Homo sapiens: one gene and its partners. The protein of the gene in region 4 interacts with the protein of the main gene of each other region in a pairwise test. Each region holds a gene or a part of one and is shown on either strand. Other genes may lie near its edges. The genes, in order: PPP2R5C, PPP2R5A, MECOM and DZIP1.

Region 1 (7,775 bases), on a different chromosome or scaffold from region 4:
CATAACGTTGATGTCTTCTCTGTTTCCTCAGACCGGATCCATGCATCCAGGTAGCATGGCAGTGACATTTGCACACAGACATCAGCACCCCAGGTTTCTGTACCTGGGGCTCCTGCCCCTGATTCGCCCCTGCAGCTTTTGTGTTAAGAAATGTTGCTAGGTCAGAAACCCAAGAAGAATTTGAGGTGATAGACCGTTGGCCCTCTGTTCCTTCCCCCCGCCCCAGTATTACTTTTTACTTAACCTTTTCTAGAGATATGCACTAAATTAATGCAATGTAATGTGGTAAGAAAGGTGTGTAGAAGTTAGGAGTGCAAGTTTTTTTCCTTACACATGAGAAATGACTTTCAATCAATCAGAATTGGCCTGGAATGAACCTTCCCGGACCTAGGTCGGTCATCAGTCAAGGACGCTGTATCAGTCTGCTCAGGCTGCCGTAAGAAAATACCACAGGCTGGTGGCTTAAACCACAGAAATGTGTCTTCTCTCCATTCTAGAGGCTGGAAAGTCTAAACTCAAGGGTGTAGCAGGGTTTGTTCCCTGCTGAGGGCCTTTTCTGGCTTGCAGACGGCCACTGTGCCCTCCCATGGCCTTTGCTCCGAGCAAGTGCAGAGAAGGCGAGTGTGAGCCTTCTACCATCCCTCCTTACAAAGACACTAATCCTGGAGGGCCAAGGCCCCACTTATGACTTCATTCACCCTTCATTATTTTCTCTGAGGACCCATCTCCAAATCCAGCCACACCAGGGTTTAGGTCTTTAACATGAATGTGAGGAAGGGAGGCCACAAGCATTGAGTCCATGACAGACACTGAAAAGAGGACATTGTGTTCAGAGCAAGCCATCTGAGTCACCTTGCAGGCCCTCAGCTCAGCATCAAGGATTCAGTGAGTGTGCAGGTGTTTGAGACGGGGCCTAGCTGCTGGGCTGACTGTCACTGTGCGGGAGAGCTTCAACTGGAAACCCTAATCACTAGCTTTCCTGCTAGTAGAAACCACCAGTTTACTTAGGAATCTCAGCTGACTGGGTGCCTCAGTCAGGGCTGTGCAGAGAAACAGCAGGAGAGACAGAGATTGAGATCTCAAGGACTTGCCTTCTGCAGTGGGTGAGTCCAGCGGGCAGGTCTGGACTCCGTGGACAGGCAGCGGGCACGAGACTTGGCCGTGGTGGACACTGCAGGCCGCAGGTGGACTCTCCTCAGAGAAGCTGCAGTTTGGGTCTCACAGGCCTCTCAGCTGACTGGTTGAAGCCCCCACATTCTCAAGAGTGATCGCTACTTGAAGTCCATTGATTATAGGTGTTAACCACATCTATAAAATGCCTTCACAGGAACACCCACAGCAGTGTTTGGACAGCTGGGCACTGTGGCCTAGCCGGGTTGACACATACGGCCAGCTGGCACAGTCGGGGACATTTTACTTTTTTTCAGTTATCGCCTTTAACCACGATGGGTGAAATCACACTTTCCTGTGCCTAAATAACATCTTAGGCAAGTTGGTTAACTTCTTAGTCATCCCTGGTCACAGAAATCCAATCTAGGTTAAAGCTTTCATCTCAGACCCTCTGCAAATGGCATCTAAGCCGCACCCCAGGCAGCCTGGCCAGGGAGGGACATGCTGTGGGAGAGGAGGGGAAGCAAGGGTGGCTCCGAGCCCCTCTTGCCCGCCCTCCCCCGGGGCTTTGAGCAGAACCCAGAGCAGAGGGGAAGGGCAGCTGCCTGTTCTGCTCAGTTGCTCCCTGTGGCCTCGGCCAGAATGGTGGTCTCTTCCTCTGTGGCATGTCTGTGACTCTTGGGCAGCAGGCCTCTTCCAGAGGGACGGCTGTTTCCTCTCCCCCAAGACCTACAGCCTCGTCTCTGGGTGAGCTGACCCCTCTCTCCCTTGGCAGCTTCCTGGGCGGCGTGGCCCTACGGCTCCTGCTCTGGCCTCTGTATCCCTGATGGGCAGCCCCAGAAACCTCGGAAGCAGTGACCGTGCTTTCCTTCCAGGCGCCATGGTTCCTCAGGCCCTGATGTCACAGGCTGTTCCCAGAGTCTCCTGCCAGGCATAGTCCTGTTCACAGATTCCTCTGCCACCCAGAGTTCGTGCCCAGGCTCTGCCCTCCCCACACTGTGCTCTGCCCCTGTCGGCACCAGGCCGGGCCCACAGCTCTAACCCACCGAAGAACAAAGTGCCATCTCCCTTTCCTGAAGGTGACCCTGTCCTGTGGGTGACTGGACCCTCACCCCAGTCTCTTGGCTTTGAGAGAGAGGGTAGAAACCCCAGTTCACGAATGCCACACTCCCCGTAGGAGCTAAAGACTCAATTCAGACTTTCCTTTCTCTGCCCTTCATGGCCCTGGAAGTTATGGAGAGCTTCAGCAGTGGCTGCTAATGACAGGACCCTGGGAGGACATGGCGGCCTGCCCAAAGTGTGTGTGTGTGTGGCCTTTCCTTAATAGTTGAGCTTTTAGCATCTGCTTGTTCACGTCTGTGGGCTTTGGGGTCAGGGTGCCAGGAGGGGCAGACTAGACCCCTGTCTGCGCCGAGTGCCTGTGGGCCAGCAACTGAGGCAGGGCCGTCCACCTGTCAATCACCGTTCTTTGGGAGGCTCCTTGCAGTGCCCTATACACACACTAGCTTCACAGAGGAGGGGACAGTCCCTGGAGAGTAGACATTGCCAGAAATTATAACACCAGTGAGAGTCAGGTTAACTCTCGGTTTTAGATTGCAAACTTTTGTCTTTGTACCTATGTCTTAGGAACATTACTCATACTTTTACTAGAAGTGTTTTTTAATTAGTTGTTCCTGGCTTTTCAGCCCCTTTTTTCATCCCTGCGTTTCTACAGTATCCGTGAAGGCCATTACAGTTGGTCTTTACGTCAGCTCCCCTCTCAGATGACACAGAGAACAAGCTCAGATGCTTGATACTCAGATGCTTGATGCTCAGAGCTTTTATAGCTGATGACTTTCTGAAAAATGATATTAAGGTTTGGAGTTCAGTATCAATACCAGTAAAGAAGGGAAGAAACAGGCAGGTGCGGTGGCTCACGCCTCTAATTCCAGTACTTTGGGAGGCCGAGGCAGGAGGATTGCTTAAGCCCAGGAGTTTGAGACCAGCATGGGCAACGTAGCGAGTTCTTGTCTCTGCAAAAAATAAATAAAATTAGCAGAGCATGGTGGTGCGTGCTGGTAGTCCCAGCTACTTGGGAGGCTGGGGCAGGAGGATCGTGTGAACCCAGGAGTTGGAGGCTGCAGTGAGCGATGATGGCCACTGTACTCCAGCCTGGGCAGCAGAGAGATGCCCTGTCTTTAAGAGGAAAAAAGAAAAGGGAAGAAACAGCAGTGGTGACATTGAGTATTAGCTTGGTCTTTACAAGACTGGGTATCTAAAGCCAGCCAAGTTTGCCCTGGACTCTCTAGAAACATCTTCTCGTTGTTATCGTAGAGTCAGATTTTAATCTTTTATGTCAAAGGTTTTGATTTTGTGCTTCTGAGAGTGGTGGGACTGGGGTTGTGATCACCTATAAGAGCCATTCACCAGAACCCAGTTATATAACTGGCATACGATCCGTTCAGAGATTCAATAAGGTAACCAATCATATTTAGACTTAGTATAAAAGAGGGTTGGGCATGGTGACTCACGCCTGTAATCCCAGCACTTTGGGAGGCTGAGGGGAGCGGATCACTTGAGGTCAGGAGTTTGAGACTGGCCTGGCCAACATGGTGAAACCGTGGTGAAATCCCATCTCTACTAAAAATACAAAAATTAGCCAGGCATGGTGGTGCACGCCTGTAATTCTAGCTACTCGGGAGGCTGAGGCACAAGAATCACTTGAACCCGGGAGGCAGAGGTTGTGATGAGTCGAGTTCGCACCACTACACTCCAACCTGGGCCGCAGAGGGAGACGTCACCTCAAAAATAAATAAATAAATACATAGATTTAGTACAAAATAAAAATAGGTTATAAATGTATGACATGGAAACAGTAATCTTTTCTGTTTATGTCACTGATCTGTCAGTATGTGTTATACAAGTCCAAACAGACTGAGAGAAATCTAACAGCCCATGCCTGGGCGCACAGCCATGCTGCCCCTACCGATCCTCTGTGCCCCTGAGCAGTCCTTTCTCTGGAAATGATCTTAGCTGCCGACTCAAAGGTCGTCCCACTCTGACTGTTGCTTTCCTCATCGTTGCGGATTGCAGAGGATGTTGGTGCCATTGTCACACGGGTCCTCCCTGCGTGACGCAGCCCTTGCCATTTCCAGCATTTTCAGCTGTGAATCTCTGCTGCGTCTTTCGTCATCTCATCCCTTTCTTACTCTCATTTTGAGCATTCTCCTTGGTCTTGCACCCACTGGATAGTATAAGACCTCAGAAGTCATCACTGTGCCATCAGCCTTTGTTGGTGTTGGTTGTCATTCAAAGTTTGACAGTCAAGAGTCCAAGTAACTTTGGTGGTCAACTTGCGTGCGCACCTGTCCAAAGTGATGTTTCCTGCTGCAGTTTTGATCCAGGCTCTCTCTGAGGACCCACACAGCTTCTGCGTTTTGAGGATACGGAGGAGCTAAGTTACCATGGGAAGCGGCTACTGTTAGAATTACCTAAGACTTTATAAAATGTTGTCTGTAAATATTTTAAATGCCCTGATTGTAATTATAGAATATGTGGATTTTAGTTTGCAGTTAACATGTTTCGAACATTACCACCTTCCTCCAATCCTACGGGAGCGGAATTTGACCCGGAGGAAGATGAACCAACGTTAGAAGCAGCCTGGCCTCATCTACAGGTATCGGGCTCTGGGTGATAGACTCGGAGGGCACTGGTGACACATGGGAATGGCCTGGGATCCACAGAGCGGGCGCACTGGTCTGGCCAGATGGACCTCTCCTCCTCAGTAGCATGGGCCTCGTAAACCCATATGTACAAGAAAAATATTTCAGCAGAATAAAGTTAATGTGTGTGTTTGACCACTTTACAACAGCCAGTGAAGATGTGTAATTGTGAGTATGTTCTCAGTGAAGATGGCCGCTGTGTTGATGGCCGTTGAATTGAATTCAGGCCCAGAGGTCCTAAGCCAACAATCTCCCAGTTTTTGCTCCTCATATTTAATAGGTGCCTGCTGGGCCCCCAGGTCCTGCGCTGGCCACTGCCTTTCCCCAGGGCATTTGTAAGGCAGAAGGTTGGTTGGCAAGGAGGCGCCAGGGTCGGCATGAGCAGAGCGGGGGCCAGGTGTGCGGGTGGGAGGGCCATCCATCCGTGACAGGCGGCCCACGCTGTCCCACCCAGCATGTCTGCACAGGGAAAGAATTGTCCCAGCTCCAGGAGGTCATGATTCTGGGTCCACATCTTAGGGCCCTCTTACCTGGCAGCCCCAGAGTTCCTGTGTATTTGGTTGGCTCTGCGCCTTGGCATTGTGGGACACTCCTAGGCGACAGGCTGCAAATCCCCCCTGCAGAGTTGGGTCATGGCTTGGTTTGTGGCATCTGTGCCCTGTAGTCCCTGAACAGTGTACTATAACTGATGACATCAGCCATGGAGATCATTTTGTTTAAATGCCGTTTAAGGGTGTAGTCTGTGGGTTTCACCAAATAAAATAATTACCATCACCATTTATCATTGAATTAAGCCATGTAATTTAGCATTAATTCTGTAGATATGTGGCTTTGAGAGGCTAATATTTGCATACCAATAAAGATTCAATTTCTGGTATATTTTAACCGCCATTCAATAAAATCTCATGTTATTTGACTCATTGTTTTTTTTCCTCCTAGCTTGTTTATGAATTTTTCTTAAGATTTTTAGAGTCTCCAGATTTCCAACCTAATATAGCGAAGAAATATATTGATCAGAAGTTTGTATTGCAGGTAAGGTACAAATTAGCTGACACTCTGAAAGCCCTGATGGAATGATGACACCCAGCCACTAAGTGTCTTTTTCTTCTCAAAGCTTTTAGAGCTCTTTGACAGTGAAGATCCTCGGGAGAGAGATTTTCTTAAAACCACCCTTCACAGAATCTATGGGAAATTCCTAGGCTTGAGAGCTTACATCAGAAAACAGATAAATAATATATTTTATAGGTAAGTCACGTGTGGATGGCGTTGTCCTTGTGTGTGGTGATGCTCATTTCCCCCCTCGATGCTCCCCTACCCCATCGTCTCCTCTGACAGGACTCAGCATGTGGAGGGGGTTTCTCAAAGCCTATTTGTCATGTGCAGGTGGACCCCCTTGTGCACTGTGTGCAGGGGGCTGCTGGGCTCATCCTCCCTGCCTTCCTCCCCTCTCCCCACAGCTCCCTCCTGAGCCACCAAGCTCCCCAGCGCCTCATCCTGGGTCCCTCCATTGTTCCTGTTTCTACTGAAAGGTCAAGTTTCCTGGAAATGTGGATGAATTGGTTCCATCCAGACCAACTGTATTAGTGAAGGTTCTCTAGAAGGACAGGACGCATAGGATAGATGAATATATGAAGGGGAGTTTATTAGGAGAGTTGACTCACACGATCACAAGGTGAAGACCCACAATAGGCTGTCTGCAGGCCGAGTCCCAAAACCTCAAAAGTAGGGAGACGGACAGTGCAGCCTTCAGTCTGTGGCGGAAAGCCCAGGAGCCCCTGGCAAACCACTGGTGTAGGTCCAAGAGTCCAGAAGCTGAAGAATTTAGAGTCCAATGTTCAAGGGCAGGAAGCATCCAGCACAGGAGAAAGATGGAGGCCAGAAGACTCAGCCAGTCTAGCCCTTCCACGTTCCTCTGCCTGCTTAATTCTGGCCGCACCGGCAGCTGATTAGATGGTGCCCACCCAGGTTAAGGATGGGTCTGCGTCTCCCAGTCCACTGACTCAAATGTTAATCTCCTTTGGCAACACCCTCACAGACATACCCAGGCACAATACTTTGCATCCTTCAATCTAGTCAAGTTGACACTCAGTATTAACCTTCACACCAGCTTTTTCCTTCTACCTGTGCATCACCTCATTCTTCCCGTGGAGTCTCAGTGAGAGGAGGCGGGGCAAGAAGTGATGTCATTCATCTGTAGAAAGCCTGAGATCTGTGCACCTCGGTTAAAGGTTTGGAGACTCCCACTGTGCACCAGGGGAGGGAAAGCCCCGCTGGAGCAGCCGGTGGAGGAGGACAGAGTCCAGTGGCAGGCCCACCTCCAGGCCCGCCCCTCCCCAGCCAGCCTCTGCTCAGCTCCAGGCTCCTTCCACGCCAGGGCTCTGTAGCCAGTGTTGGAGCCTCCTGGAATGTCTTTTTTACACCAGCCCTTCCCTCAGCCTCCCAGGCTTCCTGAAACATCCCTTCACTGGGAGGCTCTGCCTGACTTGGCGGTGGGTCTGGTCTCCCGCAAGGGCAGCCACCATGTCAGTTGATTTGTCGCACGCCCCACCCCACTGCCAGTTTCGTGCTCCCCACTGCGGTGGCACCAAGTGAATGTCAATAGAGGAAACAGTTCCTGTTGTTTCTTTTTGTTCCTGGAAAGTTCACTAAATGAGCAGTTTCTTCTACAAGTTACAGCTTCTCTGGTCAGCTTGCCTCTAAGGCATCTGACTCCAGGATGTTGCGAGGTAGTGACACATCCTGGTGATGGTGGGGACGGTATGATGGCGTGTCTCTGTGAGATAAGAGCATGAGCAGGTCCCACACAGCCTCGCTGCAGGGCCAGGGTGTGGACAGAGCACGGGCCATGGCCTGGAGAAGGGGCCAGGTGTCAGCCACGCCCAACACGGGCCTCGGGGTCCTTTCTTAGTCACAGTGACCACGGGAAAAGAAAAGGGGCATCTGAGACAGACAGATGGCAGATGA
Region 2 (7,775 bases), on a different chromosome or scaffold from region 4:
AGCATGAACCATGACTTTTCAATATGTGTTATTATGGGTTTTCTTTTTCTTAATTCTAATGGGAGTTATCATAGATTTGTATTAAGGTTTTACTTTTTTCTTTTTTTTTTTGAAGACAGAGTCTCACTCTGTTGCCCAGGCTGGAGTGCACTGGTATGAGCTCAGATCACTGCAACCTACGCCTCCTGGATTCAAGCAATTCTTGTGCCCTTGCCATCTGAGTAGCTGGGACCACAGGCCTGTGCCACCATGCCCAGCTAATTTTTGTATTTTAACTAGAGACAGGGTTTCACCATGTTGGCCAGGCTGGTCTCAAACTCCTGGCCTCAAGTTATCTGCCTGCCTCAGCCTCCCAAAGTGCTGGGATTACAGTTGTGAGCCACTGCACACCTGGGAATCAACTTCAGAGGTTTATGTGGTTTCATGTACAAATATATGGTTTCTAATTCTCCTGAATTGTCTTCAAAAACTGTTTACAGCTGTTTCTAGAAAAGACTGTAAATCTAAAAGTCAAAAAACTAATAAAAATTAAGGAGTGGAAAAATGTCTTTTGTTCCATTACACAAAGTTCAAGTGAAAGGGAGAATACTAAGTATATGATTTTTTCAAGCATCCCTACGGATAGCCTGAGAAGGTTCATAATATAGTAAAAATACATATATATTTTAGTTTTTCAAACCCTTTGCTATTTACTAAATATTTATTAGGTTGCTGCTAAAGTGATTGTGGTTTTTGCCATTAAAAGTAATGGCAAAAGCCGCAATCACTTTTGTACCAACCTAATACTAGGTAAATATTTAGACTGAACATGCCTAGAAAGCATTCTCTCAAAATACTTACTTCACCAAGGTTAAAATGTTTTCTATGCTTTTATACTTTTCTGTTTCACCCTACTTCATCTTTTGTTTTTCTTGAATCCTCAGTAAATTTTCATAACTAATTATGTTTTCACTCTCTCCTGAATTTTCATTCTAGAGGCAAATAACAGTAGAATTCAAAGCCTAAGTTGCCTTGCTGGTTCATAAACTACTTTTATTCCAAGATTACATCTTATATCTTAATCACCAAAAGCAAGGAAATGTTTTCTATCCCTATCAAGTGGTTTATTGTTAATGAGTGGCAAAAATTCTATTATTAAAAACAAAACAAAATTCAAGGGAGTAGTAGTTTTGGGACCCTCGAAGTATGCTTTAATTCCAAAAGGTGAATGAAGATTTAAAAGATTATTGGTGAAGACAGTATGCATATAAAATTTCACTGTGGTCATCTGATCCTATCATCGTACATCTTAACTACTACATATTAATAGTAGTCTATATTTCGGTTATTCAAGACATAACTCACGAGAACTCTCCCCTCCTAACCCCTTCTTTTAATGTAGATTAATCTCACATTTCTTCTTCTAAATGATTTTAGCTTAACGTACATTATTCTACTTAATAACTATAAAGGCTATAAAACGAAAGCTACAATGAAATGCTATTAATGCAGACCAAAAACATGAAAATAAATAGAACACTTACTGGCTCTGTTAGTGTTGTATCTTTCTCCAGGAACTGTACAACACAATATGCTAGCTAAAAGGTAAGGGACAGTTTATAAATATTAGTGAGATAACATTTAATAATGTAGGATTTTTATATTTAGCCAATATTTTTTAGACTACCTCATTTTGATAAATTATTCCAATATATAAAAATATACTCACAACTGTGAATGAAATTGTGAAATACCTCAATCGTGAAACTATACTCACAATTGTGTAACTTTTTAGCCTTGAAAGTAACTTCAAGTTTAAAAAACATTTTTAGTAGTAATTTCTGACTATAAAGTTAACTGAAATAAGACTAGAGCTAACAATTTAGTTTTTCAGCATGTTTCTACATGTACACCTATGCTGATATATTATTCTCTAAATATTAATAGAAGAGACCAAAATCTCTCTAACTAGGTCTAGGTTATTGCAGCTGGAAGAAACATTCTGTAGATATGTGGGATTTATTCAAAGTCACATAATTAGGTCAAGACCTGGACTATAATATGAGGAAAGTGTGTATCTTAAACTGTAAGTGTAGATATAGAAATTAAATAATTGGTCTTACTTAACAACTAAATACTTTAAAATAAGAAAAATTTGCTTTGGGTAATTTTGTAAGCAAATTGCTTAATTATACTTAAAACTGTCATCTCAGTATTTCTCAATTTCTCTGCCTTTATATTGGCCTTTGAAATAATATTCATTTCATCTGAAATGTTTCTGAAACTTACCTGAGCATGAAACAAAGCTAATCCTTTTGCAGTATGCATAGGAATAAGAACCTTCATTAGAAATTGTTTATGTTCTGCTTTCAGTGGCAATGCAAAGCCATTGATAATACTGGAGGGAAAAAAAGGCAGGGGAAGGGTTAAGTAGTTACTACTTTGTTTCTAAAAGCTGTCATATCCATGAGTACATAAGGAACAGTGCTATGCTTCAATCCTGGTGTTGTATGACTGCTCATCTTCAAACTACTTTAGGAAGACTATTACTATGAAGTCTGTTCCTCTAAGTCATTTGATGATTCCAAAAGAAAATTAGGACTGTCAATTAATTCCCAAGTAATTTCTATCTTCATTTTCTATCAAACCTGTCACTTTATGCATTGTTGCTTTTATTTTTGCCCCCAAAGCTCCAGGAGAGTCAGTACCACAATATTGTTAGAATGTTCAATATTTTTCTGAAGTAAATGGGTAATTTTTCTTACTTTGTTGGATAACGTGAAAGAAGTAGTTCTCTCCACAATCATTTTCTACTATTAATAAAGGAAACTAAAATCATTGTCTAAATAGTAACAGAAGGGTCTAAAATTCTCTTAATACTAATACGTAGTGAATAAGGAAGGCAAAGTGTTATGGCAAAAGGTAATAAGAATTCAGCTGAGGCTGGGCATGGTGGCTCACGCCTGTAATCCCAGCACTGTGGGAGGCCGAAGGGGGTGGATTGCCTGAGGTCAGGAGTTCAAGACCAGCCTGGCCAACACGGTGAAACCCCATCGCTACTAAAAATAAAAATTAAAAAATTCGTTGGGTGTGGTGGCAGGCACCTGTAATCCCAGCTACTCAGGAGGCTGAGGCTGGGGAATCTCTTGAACCCGGGAGGCAGAGGTTGCAGTGAGCCGAGAACGCGCCATTGCACTCCAGCCTGGGCAACAAGAGCGAAACTCCGTCTCAAAAAAAAAAAAAAGACTTCAGTTGAGAAACTATGTGTTCTACATTTAAACTCTAAAATATGACATAATTTCTCCAACCCCAGCTAAGATTTTAATACATAAAACATTCACTTACTTAATTCTTAAAAAGAACAAAAAAACCTGACCTACCTTCCTAATATTTCAAGAAGTTCAGCAACACCATTGAAATGTTCTGTTTCATATATAAACCTGAATTTAAAATAAAGACAAGATGTAATCAAAATCAAACTTCAGAAAACTAAGAGAAACAGGCAGGAGGGTGAAGAAATCAATCCAAAGGACAGCTATTAGAAACACACAAGCATGTTTTGGGTCTTATAAGCAGTTTTGCCCCAAACAGTTAATTCATATCAATCTTAAAAAAGAAGATGTTTCCTACTGAACTACATATGCCTTTGCCAAAACTCGCCATATGTGAAGATAACAGATTGTCATTTCACCTGGAATATTCAACTTAATAATTAATAAGAAAGATAAGTTTCCTCAAAGAAATACTTTTTAAAATAAGAAACCTCTAATTATAGGGAAATCCAAGAGAAAAAGACCCATATGTAATAAAGCCATTTTTAATCAGAATTTCTTTACACCTCTAACTATATAGGCTGCATAGCTTTCCAAGATTAGGGCTGCCTTTAAAGCAGGGAGACATAAATATAATAGGGCAGATATTTGAAATGGGCTTAGGAAGTGATGACAGAGAACTGGAGAAAGATATTCACTCTAGAGGAGGCAGATATTACTCATCTCTAATTGTTGCAATGTGGGAATAGTAACCAAATTTTGCCAGATCTTCAATTAATTAAACAAACCAAACCTTGAATGTGGGTGTTGTTATGAAATCTCCTGATCTGAAGCAACTACTTAACAGATTAATATTTATAAAGTACACTTGGCCCTGTATCCGCAGGTTTCATTATCTGTGCATTCAACCAACTACAGATCAAAAATATTTTTGAAAAATAAATACAAATTTAAAATATAGAATAACATCTATTTGCACAGCATTCACACTGTATTAAGTATTGTAAGTAATCTAGAAATAAAGTATACAGGAGGATGTGTGGACGTTATATGCAAATACTGTGCCATTTTATATAAGGGACTTTGGATTCTGCTATTAGCAGGGGCCCTGGAATCAATCCTCCCCAGATACTGAGGGATGACTACAAGCAAATGATAGGCCCCATATAAGAGGACTGCTTGAGTTCAGGAGTTCAAGACCAGCCTGGGCAACATACATAGTATGTTACATATATACTACGTTACATATATATGTTACACATATATACTATGTTACATATATATGTTACATATATATACTACGTACATACAGTACATAGACCTTGTCTCTACTAAAAGTCAAAAAAATTACCCAGGCGTGGTGGTGCACACCTGTAGTCTCACTACTTGGCAGGCTGAGAGAGGAAGATTGCTTGAGTCTGGGAGATGGGGGCTACAATGAGCTATGTTCTCACCACTGCACTCCAGCCTGGATGACAGAGTGAGACCCTGTCTCAAAAAAACAAATAAAAATAAAAGAACTTGAATACAAGAAGATATGTAGGAGGAAAAGGTGCAATATACAATAAATGATTAATTTACCTGAGGAAAATGTTGTTAATTTGTTTTCTGATGAATGCTCTTAATCCAAGAAATTTCCCATAAATTCGGTGCAGAACAGTCTTCAGGAAGTCACGTTCTCTGGGATCTTCACTATCAAAAAGCTCCAGGAGCTTTAAAAGAAACCTGAGAAATTACTTTTAAAAAATAATCGAGCTAAAGCTTTATTCTAATTTTGATCTTAAAGATTATCCATGACATCTTTTAAAAATTTTTTAGAGTTCTTCCTTACCACACTGACTTTATTCTTGCTAAGTAATGAAGGTGAGGAAAAGCTTAGGAAATATTTCTTCTCACTTATTTCACTTCAAAATATGACATTTACAATAAATATAAATATTTCAAAAAGTGGATTTTTCTTTACCTTCCCACTGATTTTAAAATTCAATCCTACTCTTGAATACTAAAGAGGCTCACAATTTTGGAGTGTTAAAATTTGGGATTTTTAATGCTTTTTGATCGTCAAAACTACATAGAAAATCGTTTAAGTTTTTAGATTGCAAGTCATCAAATAGTCTTAAAAAGATCCATGTGTAAATGTATATTTCTAGTTTACTAGAAAGATGTACATATACTAAGACTTCTTTTTGTGAATTTACAATAAATTCAAGACAGTTACCATGCAGACATTTGAAAAATTAACATTCAGTTATTAGAATAAAATATTGGCAGATACATACTAATAGAGTAGAAATCATATATAAAATAACACTGGACTAAAAGATGAGGCCAAATTTTTTTTTTTTTTTTTTTAAGACAGTCTTGCTCTGTAGCCTAGACTGGAGGGTAGTGATGCAATCACAACTCACTGCAGCCTCGACCTCCTGGGGTCAGAAGATCCTCCTGCCTCAGCCTCCCAACTAGCTGGGACTACAGGCACATGCCACCACACCCAGCTAATTTATATATTTTTTGGTAGAGACGGGGTTTCACCATGTTGCCCAGGCTGGTCTCAAACTCCTGAGTTCAAGCGATCCACCCTCCTCGGTGTCCCAAAGTGCCAGGATTATAGGCGTGAGCCACTATGCCCAGCCCATAGATTTTTCAGCTTAGCAAATAGCTGAAAAATTTTAAACCAGTTCCACAGTCAGCACTCTCCTATACCTCAATTGGCCCAATCAGTGTACTCCTATATTCTGCACAACTTTTCAGCAAAACCTGAGAGAAGAGACTTTAGAAAAAGTTAAAGTCAAAATCTCAAATTTCCATTTAAAATGGTAAAGAAACTTAATTTCTTCTGTCAAAAAAAACACTGTATTTTAAACATTGGATTTTCTTAGAAAAATATAAAATACTCTCTCTAGAGTACAAGTATCTGTAAAGCTGTCAAGGAATTTTATGTTCTGAACTTTCGTGTTTATAATTACAATAAAGATAGCAAGCTCTGAACCTCATCAGAAGTTCTTATTCCATTTTGTTTTGAATTATATACAATTGCTAACACATGCATCTGAAACCAGAGTGGATGACTTAAATCATATTTATATCTCCCAAAACAACTGCCATACTTATAGTTTCCATTCTTTGTTTGCTAGGCTGTTAAGGCCCTCATGAGACTCCAGCAAAAAATATCTACGGAGTATGAGAATTTTTGTTAATATATCTAATAAGTTCACATCAAATTATTCTAATTAAAAATGGCAGCCGGGCAAAGTGGCTCTCAACTGTAATCCCAGCACTTTGGGAGGCCAAGGCAGGCGGATCACTTGAGGTCAGGGATTTGATACCGGCCTGGCCAACACAGTAAAACCCTGTCTCTACTAAAAGTACAAACAAAAATTAGCCAGGCATGTCGGCACATTTGCAGTCCCAGCTACTTGGGAGGCTGATCCAGGAGAATCGCTTGAACCTGGGAGGCCGAGGTTGCAGTGAGCCAAGATCCAGCCACTGCACTCCAGCCTGGGCAACAAGAGCAAAACAGCCATATAAACTGCTAAAAGCAATTACTGGGCCCTAGCTTCTCAGATAATTCAAGCATTTAAAGTAGAAGGTAGAAAACAGATCCTGCCCCACCAGTTTTCTTTTTGCTCCCCTCACACCACAAAATAATACAGCAGCTTAAATACCTCAAGCTCTAGACTAACAAAGCACTAAGGCAATTGTTCCCCTCAACCTGTTACTGTATTAAATACAATTTCATATGGCATTACTAGAGCTCCCTAATGTATCCCACACAAGAGCTGCACAAGGAAATAAACAGGCATTCATTTGCAATTACCAAAATAACATAACTCCATTTAATGTAATTTTTAGTCATGATTAAAATGTATATGTTACTGTTAATACACACCTAATATTTCTTTATAGTTTATGAAGAGCTACTTCAATGGTTGAAGGAAATATTTTAGGCTGACAATGTTCTTCATTTATCAATCCTTCACAGCAACAGGTCAGAATACTTTATATGAGGTCAAGGGTAGTTATGAATGACCAAAGATCAGCTCTAAATATACCAAACTCACATTAGTAGAATTTTTATCATAGGGCACATACAAAGCGGTCTGAAGGGTAGGAAAGGTCCTTGCAATGATTTTAATCCTGGCCTCAGCATCAAATTCCTAAAGAGGCCTGCATACTCAGGCCTAGAAATGCCTAGAAAGGTTTGGTCTACTTCACAATTTTCTTTGGGGCCAGCCAATTCCATATAGTTAAAAAGGGGCCTTTGGCCAGTGCAGTGGCTCACACCTGTAATCCTAGCTCTTTAGGAGGCTGAGGTGGGAGGATCCCTTGAGGCCAGGAGTTCAAGACCAGCCTGGCCAATGTGGTGAAACCCCGTCTCTACTAGAAATAGAAAAAAAAAATCAGCCGGGCATGGTGGCGTGTGCCTGTAGTCCCAGCTACTTGGGAGGCTGAGGCAGGAGAATCGCTTGAACCCAGGAGGCGGAGGATGAAGTGAGCTGAGGTTGCACCACTGTGCTCCAGTCT
Region 3 (7,775 bases), on a different chromosome or scaffold from region 4:
AATTTTTATTAAAATGTTGCTATCTATAAAGACCAGAGCTTGCATCCTTTAAACAAAAGTAAAATAAATTTTAAATTAAGAAACCACATTCAAGATGTTTATATACCGTATTTGTTCTTTCAATACGATTTTCCACATGGTGGAAAATATGTAAACCTGTTTTTTAAAATTACTAAATGTATAAGGACTTTAGGATGAACCAATTAGAGATAGTGCTGCTTTGCATTTTCCTTGCAATGATAAACTGTATATATTTTGATAAATGAACACAATTCTATTCTGCAAATAGCACTGTGCATTGTGGTGAATTCTTGTGCAATTACAGAGCTTTGCTGGAATGCTCAGTGGTCTCTAGATAAATTCCTTCACCCTCTATGGTAACAACTTGTCAGGTAGACTCATTTCCTGTTTTTATCTAAGCCCGAAAAGAACAAGAATGACCTTCATGAGTATGGGACGAGTCACAGTATGATCTATTTCTTAGTATCAGCAACCACCACACACAAAACACATCTTGGATATTTATTTTCTTAACTGAATCCTGCTCACTCCAAAATGCACTTTAACTCAATAAACAGTTAATAGCAGACAATCATTTAACACTGAAATCATGTTATTTTTACACATATATTAACTAATTTTTCTTTAAAGAGTTTGGGTTTTAATTCTGCTAGAATTTCCTGTGTTCTTCCACACCAGCGTCATAGGAAATCCTAATGTTCTCAAGATGTCTTTCATTTCATTGCACCTGCTTTTCAGGATCAACAAGTTAGTTTACAAGCTGGAAATCTCAAATCCAAAATACTTACTTGTGGGTGAAACAAGAATCCTGGAGAAGGCCTCAAGTATTTCTCTTTTAAAGCTTCAAGTGGGTCAGTTAGTTTTCTTTTCTCTACTCTGAAAGGTTAAAATTAGATTTTGGAGATGAAGCAGTCTCACATATCAATCACTACATAATCACTGACATTTAAAGGAACTAACAATAAAGTCAATGGTAGGTTTCTGGGAAGCGCACTCATAAAACTATAGAGACATCTGTCCAGTTCTTGGAGATTCCTCATGACACTTCTAGGTGCTTAAGAAGAAAAGTTCCTATTTATAATGGAAAAACCCTACTGAATGACTAGGAATAGGAATAACGAGAAAACATGAAAAATAAGGAGTCACTAAATTAGAGGCATTTGTCATGAATTCAGTACCTTTCCATTCCAAATGTAGACAAGAATGCTTAATGATTTTGAAATCATGAGGTCAAGGCTGATTTTGAATATTAGAGCAATTTTCTACCAAGAAGGTGTTCTCCCAAATGTGCACTTTATTCCTTCCATATTTGTCAATAATAGTAAGGGCATTTCCAAGCATATACACTGCTAGCCACTCTTTGAGGTTCTCTCTCTCTCAATATATATTTATATTTAAACATATAGCATAATATATTGATATATAAATATTTTATGTAAATTATATTTAATATATATTCAGAGAGAGAGAGAGAATATATGCTCTTTGGATGCCACTGCTGATAAAGAAGGCAGGCAGATAGAATGGGTGTGGTGAGAAGAGAATGGGGAGCTTTCTGAAGATAGAGAGAGACACATAAAACTTACCTATATATCCCTTCTGCTTTAGAAATGTTTGCCATTCTATTTTGTATTAAGCACATAGGGAAATAATATCCCTATGTTGAATTAATTCATTGAATTAATTTCTTTTACCAACTTGGTAATTAAAAAAACTTTTAGATATGTGCACTCTTAAAGCAGAATAAAATACCTACCACTTATTGATATTATATATGTGATATATGTGTGTTGCATATACTATTTCACTTTTTGAAGTAGGTGATGTTATATCCATTTTATGCTTTTTTTTTAAGTCTCAGACATGAGAAGGCTGAGGTTGCAACCCAAGTCTGACACTAAAACTGGATTCTAGGTCTTTCATGAGTTTGGCAAAATGACAGGCCTAGGTCTTAATTGAGACAAGCACCAGAGAGATGTTGGAGATCACAGTGAGTAAGAGGAATGCTAGTAGGTGATGAGGATGAGTGCAAGAGATATGTGGAAGAATCAGAAGCCAGTTGCTACTGAGAGGGTACAAAAAGGAAAGCCTGAAAAATTATCTTAACAAAGGACTGAGACACATCATTGAGTTGGAAATACGACTTTACCCGAAATGTGTGACATACAATCTACACACAAAACACGGAAGACATGTTTTTCTTTTTTTTCCTTCTCTGGTAACAGGACTGCCAAACTAATTGAGATATAATAATTTTAAAAAGCAGCCAAACTTGGTACTGACAGCACTGAGTTATTTTGTATTGTCCTTTGATACTACTTTATCATATTCAAACGAGGGTAGTCCTTTCCATACTGACAGTGTTTCCTTGTTAACGCATTATAGATAATATACATAGAAGAAGAATTGTAAGTGAGAAGAACTTGCAGCTCTAGTACCTATTAAGTAATATGAACTTGATAAATATTGTTGAATTAAATAATAGCACATTTTCTCTTCACGAAAGAGAATTAGGCAAAATATGAAAATACTCCGATGTTAAATAAGTTCAATAAAAAATTATCCAGATGTTCCATGAACTCTTGACAATGTTCAAGATTAGAATGAGAAAGTAAATGTGAAAATGTTTGTAATATTCAAAATATGTAACAAACATATTATTATTCATACCCATTTAAAGAAAACTAGTATTTTAAAACTAAATCACTTTGGTCAGGTGAATATTACTGAATATTGCCAAAAAGGCCTTTTATTAAACTTGTATGTTTCACCCCAAGATTTTTTTGCTACATCAAAGGAAACCGGATAATGAAGCTATTAAACAGAGACATTTTTTAAGCCAACTACTCATATTATATACAAAACATATTCTGTGATTAATATTTCATTTACTTGGGGGCTCCTGAGAGATTTATTTAGAAACAATATGACCAGCCCTTATTAAGGATGTGTTGGTAGGTCAAAAAAGAGTGGACTCTTGCTGTTAGATATCCCCCCCATTCCAAAGAACCTGACCCATTTAAGTACCCACGCATATTTGCATTAATCCTTCAGGATCCTCATTCTTCCGCCACTTGACAATTTACTTTAAATATGACTTTCCCATATTTTCCACTCCAAAAAAAGTGTTTAAAAATAAATTTATTGTCAAGGGAAAAAAATTCTGTAGGCCTATTCCAAACCCCCAACTTCAGAAACATCCAAAAATAAGTTCAAACAGAATGATCCAACTTTCAGAATAAAAAATGAGTTCACTAGATCAAACAACTTCACTCTGTTTTATAATAATAGTAAAAATGATGTGTTAAAAAGCCATCACTTTACAGTGGAAATACCGCCTTTCATACATCTGCTCATATTTCGTCATCTTCCATACACGCTTACCTGTAAATAGGGTCCATAAAGAAAGGAGTGGGTCTTGCATGCTGCAAGGAACCATCTGAAGCAGGTCTTGATTCGACGTTGCTTCCTTTTTTTCCCCCAAACACGTGGTTTTTTCGAGGCTCAGTCAGCTTTGTCCCACTGGCTCTACTCCTACTGCCCATACTTAGATCCAGGGGCTGGTCTTGGCTTGTGGCAGGTGTCACTGGAGGCTTGGAGGGGACTGGAGTCAAGGGCTTCTCATCCTTTCGCTTAGTGGTGAGATCAAAGGGGGACTCAGAGCTGCCCTTCTGCAGTTTCTTTACTTCACCTGGTGATTGGGGTTCCATTTTCAAAGGTAACGATCTCAAGTCTCTATCAGGAAATGGGTACATTGATTGAGAGAATGCTGGAAAAAATGGGAGGGGAAACATGGAAGGGTAAGGTAAAGCTCCAACTTTTTTGTCTTGCAGCCCCACCAGTCCTGTTGAACCAAAGTATTTTTCAGCAATAGAAGCAATAGCCTTTATAGAATCATTCACAGCTCCTGACACCGCAGTCTGCTCCTCTAAAGATGGTGAGAAAATGGAATGATTGCTGTATTCTTTCTTATTATTTATTGAAGCCAGATTCTGAAGAGGGCTTACTTTGTCTTTGAACATTTTACCATTTTCTTTAAATTTCTCTTTATCACTTTCAATGTCACTTTCCAGATCAGAGCCCGAGGTTGTTTCCAGGTCACTGCCACTTGGTGTACTGACATCATCAAGGTCACTACTCTCTGACTGGTCACTGATTTTCTCAAAGGGCCTCTCTTCAGAGGACCTCTCGGGCTGGAGCTCCACTGGCTTATTGTCCCCTACAGATGGGTGTTTAGATAGTGCCTTCAAAATATCCTGTGTAGCTGGCAGTATCTGAGGATGTGTCATGAGGGGACTTTGACTTTTGTTTGTCTGTTCAGTACTTGATAGTCCTTTAACAGGAGAACTAGCAGGTATCAAAGGAGGCCTGTGGTACAAGCCGGAAGGAAACAGACCAGGGAAGCTAAAAGAAAATCCAGGAGCTGTTGGAAAGGTAAGACCAGCAGGATGCCTATTGGCGCCAAAATAGTCAGCAAGGCCCGGGTTGGCATGACTCATATTAACCATGGACGTTTTATCCATAGCTGGGGTTCCAGGAAGTGAAATGCCTTGGCCAAAAAATCCACCTGCCGCAAAATGGTTCTTGCCCTCACAAAACCTCCTGTGTTTATTTAAGGAAGACGTAGTGCTGAACATTTGTCCACAGTCTTTGCACTTGATTTGGGTTCTGCAATCAGCATGCATGCGCTTATGACGGCAAAGGTTTGAAAACTGAGTATAGGATTTATGGCAGACCTCACCTGTGTGCAAACAACAAAAAAGAATCTCAGGCTTTATGTCAATTGCTTCTGAATTTAGCAAATATCACAATTGGTTTACTCAAAATTTCAATTAGGAAGCCAGTAAAAGACATTGGAGGCACCAATCTGGGTGCTCCAAACACAGAAAACCCCATTTCACTAGATTCCAAAGCAAGGCAACCAACCTGACAAATGTCTTGAGGCAGCACAAATATTTCATATATATAGATATATATATCTTGTCACCCCCTTGTGCAATATTTTGCATAATATTTGTGTATTTAAATATTTATGAAAAGTTAAATTCCATCATGCATTGATTCTCCACACAATTATTATACTAATATAATGTTGAAAATTAGTCTTAAAATGCATTACGTACAAAACACAACAAGAACCCCTTTCAAATTTTAGAGTACTTAAAAATTCTATTTTGTAGGCACCAAAACAAAATAAAATATCCTCAACCAGAAACTTCACCTTTATTGCCTCTCCCCTTGGGGAAAAAGCCTGTGACTGCCCTGCTATTATTTAATTGGTATTATATCATATGCTCTCATCATTCACACATCAAAGCCACACAACAATGCACATTGTGTATTCTGAGACTTTTTTTAACAATCATTTTCATGATTTGAGAAAGACTGACATAATTTACAATGGCTCTATTTTAAGCCTGCAAAGGAAACTAAATTGAATGTAGCCCATCCTGCATTGCTGGTTCCCATGAACTATGATCACGTCCTCTGACTTCCCCTCACACCAGTGGTTGTGCTAACCTTCCTGCATTTATGAAAACCCCGTCCTTGGGAAACATGTCCACTTGTTGTCATATCTACACTGGTTATCTCAGGCTTGACTTCTGTGTGTTATAGCCAACTATGCTCAGTAGGGGAGAGCACTGTGAAAGCTCTAATCCAGAAAGAAGGGCACAGCATTGGATGCAGCTGTGAAATATGCCTCTTTGCTAAGAATTTGTCAATAAAGTAGAATCTTCCTCCTCACACATGTGCCACTATAGCCAAGTATATTTTAAGACCAAACTTTGTAACCCTTAATAACTCCTTTACCAGGTAAGAATCACTCACTTCACTGTCCAGCAGTATTACAGTATCAGTACCCTGAGCATCACATTTTTTATTTTACTTTACGGGATTGAGCCACGTTATGTGTGAGCTTATTTTAACACTTCTGTGCATGTTCAATACATGCAGAAACAAGATGTACCTTGTTGGTAATTGTTGAAGCAAATTTATTTTAAGAAATTAAATTGAAGACAAAATGCAACAGTTATTGCTTTCATATGATGGCTGCCTTTAAGTGCAGAATGATTGTGCTTCTAAGTCAAAGCAATAATAATTAAAAAAAAAAACTCATGTCAAGGAGATTTTATAGACTTTCAGTCAAGCAAAACTCACCCAGAGCTTGGATTATCCCACATACATCCAAACAGGAAGTACCAAGTAAGGGTATATCTCTTTCTTTTACTACTAAAGGTTAAAGTGTATTGTTGCATATATCAAAGTGTTTGGTAATATTAAAGGTGCCTTCAATTGTGGGATGAATCACAACGTTACAGAGGCTGTAACATGCATTTTAATGGGAATAGAAGATGTGGGTGATATCTTTTCAAATTATTTTACCAGAATATATCGACCAGAGTCAGCTTTAAAAGTATATACAATTTAACCATACACCATAAATATACATCTAATTTAAACTGTTTGATACACTAATTAAAATCAAATAATGGAGAAGGTAGAAACATCAGATGTTTACTAGATATATTAGAATAATTTATAGCTACAAGCAATAACAATATTTTATTATTGGAATTATAAAAAGTAAGAAAGCAACACCTCTTAAAAGGCATTGAAAAAATGTCTTGATGAGTATTCAACCAAGACATAAGTTTTTCAAAGACTTGTCATTTTTTGGCAAGGAAATGTTGCTCTCTACACTTCTTTCTTACAATCAGATGGCTTAAAAAAAAAAAATCAAGAGCTTCTCTCTATTGGAGTAACAGAAGTTCAGCTGACTTTTCTGGTGGCACCCGTTGTTACATGGCTGAGTGCTGTCTGTGTCTGGGCTCAAGAACATCGAATCTGGGATGTTTTCTTAGGCAGAGGCTTTGTTTTCGGCACTTGAAGGCCTGGCCTGGCATACCACAAACTACCAGGCCTCCAGGTAAACTGGTTCAATTGATGTTGAAGTTTATACTCTACTGTAATTTTCTCAGTAATAAGGAATTAGCCAGCAGTTAACATTGCATTTTTCTACTTATTAAACAAATTAAGAGGCATTTTGAATATATTCAGCCTATTAGAGCATGTGGTTTCTATTTGGGAAAGCTGTAGGTTTCTGTAAAGGCAGTGAGTAATTACCTTAGCACTGGTGACTTTGGGCTCAAGCGTGGCAGCACACTGTAATAAGAGACAGTTGCCATAAACACACCAGTGGGGGTAAATCGTGGTGTGTGGCCTTCTGGTGAGAAACAGATATCAGCCCTAGGTGAACCTCCTCCACTCAAGTCTCCACACCATTTCCTGATCTTTAATCTCTTTTGTTCTGAAATTACATGGCTATTATTCATAATTACTCCATGGTTCTCTGGCAGATTTTAAATTTGAAGAATGCCATCTGCTATTTAAATTTACCAATAATTACTGAAAATACATTCAAGGGAAATACTTTATGCAATCTGATTGGAAAGGGACACCCTATGGCACTTTAAAGTGAAACACTTGTCTTCAACACAATTAAAATTCCAGATCCCAGAATCTTCGATAGCAGAAGTCTATATTTTCTGACTTTTATTTTAAATAATAGAGAAAGCATTAAATGAGTGATCAGAATTCCTTGTGGTTTATTCTAGTTTTTTCTCACATCAAAACATAATAAAACTTACCAAAATTTATTTCTGAGGAATCAGAAATAAATGAACTATTTAATATCGTATGCCTGTAGTACTTCCAAGTACATTTTCAGGGCATTAAGACTTAAGAGTCAGGAA
Region 4 (7,775 bases):
GGAGTTTCACCATGTTGGCCAGGCTGGGCACGAACTCTCAACCTCAAATGATCCACCCACCTTGGCCTCCCAAAGTGCTGGAATTACAGGTGTAACCCACGGTGCCCAGTCATATTCTGGTATATTTCTTGGTATTGCATCTCAGAGAATCCCTAAAGCATCTCTTCAACCTCCCGGGCTCATGACAGCTTTGGTTCACCTATAGAACTTTAGGGACCCCTCACACCAGCTCTGATGTAAGTCATATAGGCTCTCGGGCTGTGTACAGCACTGGAGAAAGGAAAGGAAGAGGAAGCTATGCCTCCCTCTCTCCCCACCCCACCCCAGAGTTCACATGTTGCCAGAAGGTGTTCTAACGATACTGTTCCTAACAGAGACAGAGACCATCCAGCCTTCAAACTGCAATACGGCCACTCTATCAGGGCAAGTAGAATGCTTCAGCAGGGCTGCCCATGTAAGTGTAAGATGAGAGAAATGCACAGTGATGATGGAGAGGATGCAAACACACCACCCTGTCAAAGGGAGGAGGGGAAAAAAAGGTAGGGAGGTAAGGAGGTAGGGAGGGAAAGAGGGAAGGAAAGAGGGAAGGTAGGAAGAAGGAAGGAAGGGAGGGAGGGAGGGAGGAAAAGGGAGGAAAAACATGGCATGCAAAAATAAAGCTTACTGCAGGGGATCTATAAATTAAGAAAGGAATCTAAAGATGTTCTTCACAATCTATTCACATCACAGAACATAAGAGTAGCATACATTCTATAAAAATGATATGATTTTTTAAAAAACCAGAATGAGTTTAAAAAGAAAGATAAAATACAAAAAAAAAAAAAAGATCTGAAACATCATTGCAGAACAAATAAATAAGAAAAAGCAAGGAATAGGGCCGGGTGCAGTGGCTCACGCCTGTAATCCCAGCACTTTGGGAGGCCAAGGTGGGTGGATCACCTGAGGTCAGGAGTTTGAGACCAGCCTGGCCAACTTGGCGAAACCCTGTCTCTACTAAAAATACAAAAATTAGCCAGATGTGGTAGCACATGCCTGTGATCCCAGCTACTCGGGAGGCTGAGGCCGGAGAATCGCTTGAACCTGGGAGGTGGAGGTTGCAGTGAGACAAGATTGCGCCACTGCACTCGGGGCCAGGGTGACAAAACAAGACCTTGACTCAAAAAAAAAAAAAAAAATAGAAAAAAAGAAAAGAGAAAGCAAGGAATAAAAGAGACACTGTTGAAAACTGAATTGCTCACTAAAGGAAAGGCTGACATAATTTATCACAGTGAATGTAGATTAGAAGGAAAGAATTAAAGCAATGAGAAAGAAACCAAAGAGTACGGAGAACTAATGGACAAAATCAATACTGCATAAAGGTAACTGGTTTCCCAGAAGTAGAGAAGCCAAAAATGAAACAAAATTTAAAGACTGAATACAAGAGTGTTTCTCTGAAGTGCAGTGAAAGCTGAATCTGCAGATTAAGAATTCACCAGGTTCCAGGGAAAACTGATACAGAACACTCAACACCAAGACATACCCTAGAAAGCTACTAGGCTTCAAGCAGAAAGAAGGGACTCTTCAGTCATGCAGGCAGAAAAAGCAAGTCACTCACAAGAAAAAAACTTTAGGCCACCCTCAAACTTCTCACAGCAACATTTACTGCCAGAAGACAAAGGAACCACATCAAAAAGTTCAGAGGGAAAGTGTGACTAAGAATATTCTTCATCCAATATGTCTTTCAAACTTGATAGAGTTGAAGAAATGCAGCACTCTTGGGCCTTCTGGGTAAGACAAATCATTTTGACAATCCTATGAATTAAGAGATAATTCAAAATGAGAAACTCAAGAATGGAGATGTTGAGGTGAAAGGATTTTGAATGAGCACATAAATATAAAACCAATGAAAAAAACAAGTAAGACATTATGGCTGAGTAAGAGAATGTGAATGTTACCAACCTGGATAGTGTAACTCTCCAAACTGGGAGAGAAGCCCTGACTCCAACTGTGACTGTGTTTGGAGATGAGGCCTTTAATGAGATAATTAAGGTTAAATAAGATCATAAGGCGGGGGGCCTAATCTGATAGGGTAAGTGTGGCACAGTGGCTCACACCTGTAGTCCCAGCTACTTGCAAGGCTGAGGCGGAAAGAATATTTGAGCCTAGGAGTTTAAGGCCAGCCTGGGCACATAGCAAGACCCCTTCACTTTAAAAAAAGAAAAAGAGAGAGACATTAGCGATCTCTCTCTCTCTCTCTCTCTCTCTCTCTCTCTCTCTCTCTCCAAACACAGAAAAGGCCATGTGATGAGGACATAGCAAGAAGGTGGCTGTTTACAAGCCAGGAAGAGAGGCCTCACCAGGAACCATCCCTGTTGACACCTTGATCTTCAACTTCCAGCCTCCAGAACTGTGAGAAAATACATTTCTGTTGTTTAAACCATCTAACCTGTGTTATTTTTATGGCAGCCTTGGCAGATTAGTACAGATCTATAAGTATAATATCATTTATAGAAAATTTTCAAACTTAAAAACACTGTCTTATGAATACATATGTTCATAAAAATATTTTATATGTTCATAAACATAAATAGGAAGGATATAGTCAAACAGATTTTCTCTGAGAATCGAGGAAGGGAAAATTATTTATTTCTAAGATGTTTAAAACTCTTTAAACATTTTGCTATCTTGGAAATATAGCAAAATGCTAACCTGAGTTCAATCTTTTTTTTTTTTTTTTTTTTTGAGATGGAGTTTTGCTCTTGTCACCCAGGATGGAGAGCAATGGCGTGATCCCAGCTCATTGCAACCTCCACCTCCTGGGTTTAAGTGATTCTCCTGCTTCAGCCTCCCAAGTAGCTGGGATTACAGGTATGCGCCACCACACCTGGCTAATTTTTGTATTTTTAGTAGAGATGGGGTTATACCATGTTGGCCAGGCTTCTCTTGAACTCCTGATCTCAGATGATCTGCCTGCCTTGGCCTCCCAAAGTGCTGGGATTACAGGTGTGAGCCACTGCGCCCAGCCTAACCTGAGTTAAATCTAAGAGGTGGGTATATGGTATGTCTTACATTAGTCTATGCACTTTTTTGTATGTTTATAATATTTCAGTACTAATTTTTATTTGAAAATCGATGAGATTTTTCTTTTAAAATCCCCCATATATGGGTATTCACTATATTGTTGTTTTAATTTTTCTGCATTTTAAATTTTTTAAATAAAATATTGAGGAAAAAGACCTTACACATTGCCATCACTACCCCCCTTATACACAACACACACACACACACACACACACACGCACACCCCATGGGGGAAAAAACCCATTAGGATGCGTGCGTGTGTGTGTCTGTCTGTCTGTGTCTTCAAGCCTTCAAGAACAGGCATCTTTAATTTTTTTTTGTCTCAGCTACTCAGTTCTTATGATTTCTTAAAGCAAAGGGAGTAGAGACAAAGAGAAGTGGTATGAGAATGAGAATGAGACCACAATTTCTCAAAGGTAAAACTGATAATGCGGTGGACCCAATCATTGTGTCAGAACAAGGAGTCTAGGCTTTGGATTTTCTGTATAGGGGAAGAAAGAAAAACTCACATGATAGCAGTCATATGATTGTTCACATTTTGTAGTAAGTCAGCTTTAGTATTTGTCATGCCACAAAACGTTTTTCCCTCATTCCCAGGTATTAGCTAAAACAATAACTAACTACATGCCAAGCACTGCTCTAAGCACAGTCTATGCACTAAGTCATTCAATCCCCATTAACAACTGCTATATGGTAGGTACAATTAATATTCCCATTTCACAGAGTAGAAACTGAGGCACAGGGAGGTTGAGCAACTTGCCAAGGTCTGGTAGCTGAAAAAGTAGTAGGTGTCACTCATTTGATAAATTGAGTCATTACCTTTTAATCATTACTTATCATTCACATTTGAAAATCTTCTCTTAGGCCAGGTGTGGTGGCTCACGTCTGTAATCCCAGCATTTTGGGAGGCTGAGGTGGGTGGATCACTTGAGGTCAGGAGTTTGAGACCAGCCTGGCCAACACGGTGAAACCTCGTCTCTACTAAAAATACAAAAATTAGCTGGGCATGGTGGTGCACACCTGTAGTCCCAGCTACTCAAGAAGCTGAGGTGGGAAAATCGCTTGAACGCGGGAGAAGGAGGCTGCAGTGAGCCAAGACCGCACCCCTGCACGCCAGCCTGGGCGACAGAGTGAGACTCCATCTCAAAAAAAAAAAAAAAAAGAGAGAGAGAGAGAAAGAGAAAGAAAGAAAATCTTCTCTTATAACAGCCATTTCTATAGTAACCCCAAAAAAGGAAAAAAAAGTTTATAAACATACAATTTCTGTATGTTAGAGGTTTTAACATTTCACTAGATGGCTGCTAAAGCTGGACTATAATAAATCTTTAAAAATGTTTAAATAGAATCCATTATATTCGTTGCACAAGAAAAAAACCATCTTAGCACTATTTGTAAATATTTAATTTTTAAGCAGCATTTATAAAACAAATAAGCAATTAGCAATGCCCAGTGTCATTTGAAGATTATACCTCAGGGTTGTCTACCCAAGACCAAACACTAAGTCCTTCTAATAATATTCCTAATTGTTCCCTTATCTTTTTTATTTTTATTTATTTTTTTTTTTTTGAGATAGATTCTCACTCTGTTGCCAGGCTGGAGTGCAGTGGCGCTATCTTGGCTCACTGCAACCTCCGCCTCCTGGGTTTAAGCGATTCTCCTGCCTCAGCCTCCCAAGTAGCTGGGACTACAGGCACATGCCACCAAGCCCAGCGAATTTTGGTATTTTTAGTAGACACGGGGTTTCACCATGTTAGCCAGGATGGTCTCGGGTCTCAATCTCCTGACCTCGTGATCCGCCCGCCTCGGCCTCCCAAAGTGCTGGGATTACAGGTGTGAGCCACTGCACCCGGCCACTGTTCCCCTATCTTAAGAACACTCAACACTCCTGCTGGGTCAGTCCTGAGCAATATTAACTGCACCATTTTCTCTGCCCTGCACCCAGTTCTCTCCAGCATTCATGCATCAGCTCCACTATTCCTAAATCCAGTGAGGCCTTTTAAGCCATAGTCAGCCGAAAGGACTAGAAAGTAAGGGCATGACATCAATCTTGTTAATCTGTTGCTTACTTCAATATCTTTCTCAATCATTGTTTATACCTTCTGCACTTCCTCCAACTAGTCAATAAAAAAAAAATACATTGGTTTATGTTATACTCAAAAATTGCAATATTTATCTTGGACTCAATGTCTAACCCAAAACAGTAGAAGATTAAGACCAGAAGATAAAAATATTTTATTCTTTAAATACTGTTATGTAAGTGAATGTTCTTGTTCTTAGAAAATATACACATCGAAATATTTAGGATCTGCAACTCACTGTGAAATGGTTCAAAAGTAATAATAATATGTATACAGAAATAGAGGGACTGTGGAAAATGTTAATAATGGGGGAATCTGGGTGAAGGGCGCATGAAAATTCCTTACAGTCTCCTGGCAACTTTTCTGTCAGTTTGAAAGTATTTCAAAATTTATAAAAATGAGAAAAAGACCCTACAAATTTAAACATTCTGCATCGTTTGGGGACTGGCTTCAACAGCAATTTGTATATGGTTTTTTCATGTTGAGGTTGATTCGGAGGAGGAAAGTGTTTCAACAACCAGCATTTAGATAACTTCCATAAAGCACCACAGACGACATTTGTTGTTTAATTATTAATCCCCTGATTGTCTGCAGAAGGTAATGAACCATGACATTTGTTGGTTAAATGACTGTTTTTGCTTAAATATACTGTGTCTTCTGATATACAATATAAATCTTTAAGAAGAAAGAGTGGTGATACGGGACAGGCCTATCAAATGGGAACTGAGTTGTTTACTGGATTATGAATCGTGCTCACACACAGCTGCCCACCTGGTAATAGTTGGCTTTGGCCTCGATCATCAGCTGCTGGGTGGAGATCATCTTCTTCCGGCGTTTGCACTCTTCCTTGAGCGTCTTGATCTCCCCCGCCTGCTTGGTGAGCAGCTTCTTGCTCTGCTCGCCGTCGCAGTGGCTCAGGCGCAGCCGCTCCTCCAGGGTGTGCAGCTGCGAGGTGAGGAACTCTTGTGAGTGCAGCAAGTACTCGATGGTGAACTGCGCCAGACGGATGAGCTTCAGCAGCACCGGGTCCACCCCCGACTGGCAGTGTGGGCACTTCTCGTCTTCCAGCTTGCAGAAGGTGATGTTCATGATGTTCTCCTGCAGCGTCAGCACGTCCACAGCCCCCGCCACCTTGTCCACGTCGATGGCGCTCAGCCGCCGCCAGTCCACACTCTCCAGCCGCGGCCTGAACTGGAAGAAGGGCAGGGGCCCCGAAGCCGCGCTGGGGGGCGCACAGGCCATGGAGGCCGCACCCGCGGCGGCGGCGGCCACAGCGACGTCGGGCCCCTCTGGGCCGCTGGCGAGCGGGTAGTAGACATGCTTCTGGAAGGGCTGCGGGGGGCACAAAGAGAGCGCGGCGGGAGGCGGGGATGGGGGGCGGGCAGGCTGGGGAGCTGGGGGTCCGGGGAAGCCCCGGTTCTCCCCAGCCCGGCATCCCCGTCGGGGGCGCCCCGGCCTCCCGCCTCTTACCATGCTTGAAAACCAATCCGCTGCCTCAGCTTGCATAGGAGGAGCCGGGCGGTCTTTACCCAGCCTGGGCCGCCTCCCGGGCCGCCGCCGCCACAGCCCTCAGGAGCGGGAGAAGGCCGGGTTCCTCGCTTCCGCGGCGGCGGCGGCCTAAGGTCTGGGCGTCCAGGACGTTGCTATAGCAGCGCCCAGGTCCGGACCTGGAGCAAAGGGCGCGTCTGCCCGCGCAGGGTCAGCGTGCACCCAGAACCCTGCGGGACCAGAGAAGACCTCTTGGACGAGCCCGAGTGGACACAGCCGTTCACCCGAAGAGGGTACCTCCTGGGTACCGGCTCCCCAGGGCGCCACCCTCCCTGGCGTTTGGGGCTGGACACTCCATGTCCCTAAGGCAGGCGTGGGGAGCCACATCCCTGGGAACCTTTGGTCTTAACTGCCATCCCCTGGTTATTTATTCACTGTAGCCCTGGCCTTAGGCTTTGAAATTAGAAATATCTATTCATTCCATCATTAATAGAAAAAGAAAAAAAAAGTAGTATCTATTCATCCTCATCTTTTACACACGATTTAGAAAACATTAAGCAATAAAATATATATAATTAAATGTGATAGAGGGGGACTCGCTGCAAAAGGGCATGAGGAAGCTTTTGGCATAACAGAAATGTTTTTCATTTTGATTGTGGTGTTGATTACCCAGCAATATACACTTGGCCAAATTCACCGAATTGTGTCCTTAAAGTTAAGGGTACATTTTTATTATATCTCAATAAAGTTGTTTTTTAAATGAAATTTGCAGTTAATCATATTTGATGGCAGGCTTTCTAGATTTCTGACACCCAAGTTGCTTTTTAAATGGAGTCTTTCTTCCTTTGTAGGTTAGCAGCCTAAATATAACATTTTGATAAAAGTACGAACCAAAGAACTCCCCAAAATATGTAATACTTCACCTGTCTTTCCAAAAGGATACATACTCAAAATGCTGAAGGTAGAAACAGATGGAGGGGGATTTTAGCCATCAGCTTTACCAACAAGTTTTACAGGGCCATGGTATTTACCTTACAAACTTGGGTCGGGGCTGCATTCTGGGCTTTGGAGAGGCTAAAATATTTCTAGCAGCGACTTGTAGACCTCAGGCCTCTCATTTCTATGGGTCTTCTGGGGGCCTCCAGTGGT

The links.
Region 1: the proteins of DZIP1 (region 4) and PPP2R5C interact in a two-hybrid assay, tested with the Homo sapiens proteins (one study listed by IntAct).
Region 2: the proteins of DZIP1 (region 4) and PPP2R5A interact in binary tests that used the Homo sapiens proteins (3 or more experiments, as listed by UniProt).
Region 3: the proteins of DZIP1 (region 4) and MECOM interact in a two-hybrid assay, tested with the Homo sapiens proteins (one study listed by BioGRID).

Annotation. Positions count from the first base shown.
Region 1 is NC_000014.9:101,877,507-101,885,281, forward strand, and holds part of PPP2R5C (serine/threonine-protein phosphatase 2A 56 kDa regulatory subunit gamma isoform), read left to right. Parts: intron 1-4,654; coding exon 4,655-4,765; intron 4,766-5,750; coding exon 5,751-5,843; intron 5,844-5,925; coding exon 5,926-6,056; intron 6,057-7,775.
Region 2 is NC_000001.11:212,342,991-212,350,765, reverse strand, and holds part of PPP2R5A (serine/threonine-protein phosphatase 2A 56 kDa regulatory subunit alpha isoform), read right to left. Parts: intron 4,964-7,775; coding exon 4,833-4,963; intron 3,420-4,832; coding exon 3,360-3,419; intron 2,378-3,359; coding exon 2,269-2,377; intron 1,578-2,268; coding exon 1,524-1,577; intron 1-1,523. UniProt on the Homo sapiens protein: The B regulatory subunit might modulate substrate selectivity and catalytic activity, and might also direct the localization of the catalytic enzyme to a particular subcellular compartment.
Region 3 is NC_000003.12:169,111,978-169,119,752, forward strand, and holds part of MECOM (histone-lysine N-methyltransferase MECOM), read right to left. Parts: intron 4,763-7,775; coding exon 3,406-4,762; intron 898-3,405; coding exon 810-897; intron 1-809.
Region 4 is NC_000013.11:95,635,386-95,643,160, forward strand, and holds part of DZIP1 (cilium assembly protein DZIP1), read right to left. Parts: 5' UTR 7,658-7,775; intron 6,857-7,657; 5' UTR 6,645-6,856; coding exon 6,609-6,644; coding exon of another isoform or gene 6,471-6,608; coding exon 5,910-6,470; intron 1-5,909. UniProt on the Homo sapiens protein: Molecular adapter that recruits protein complexes required for cilium assembly and function to the cilium basal body.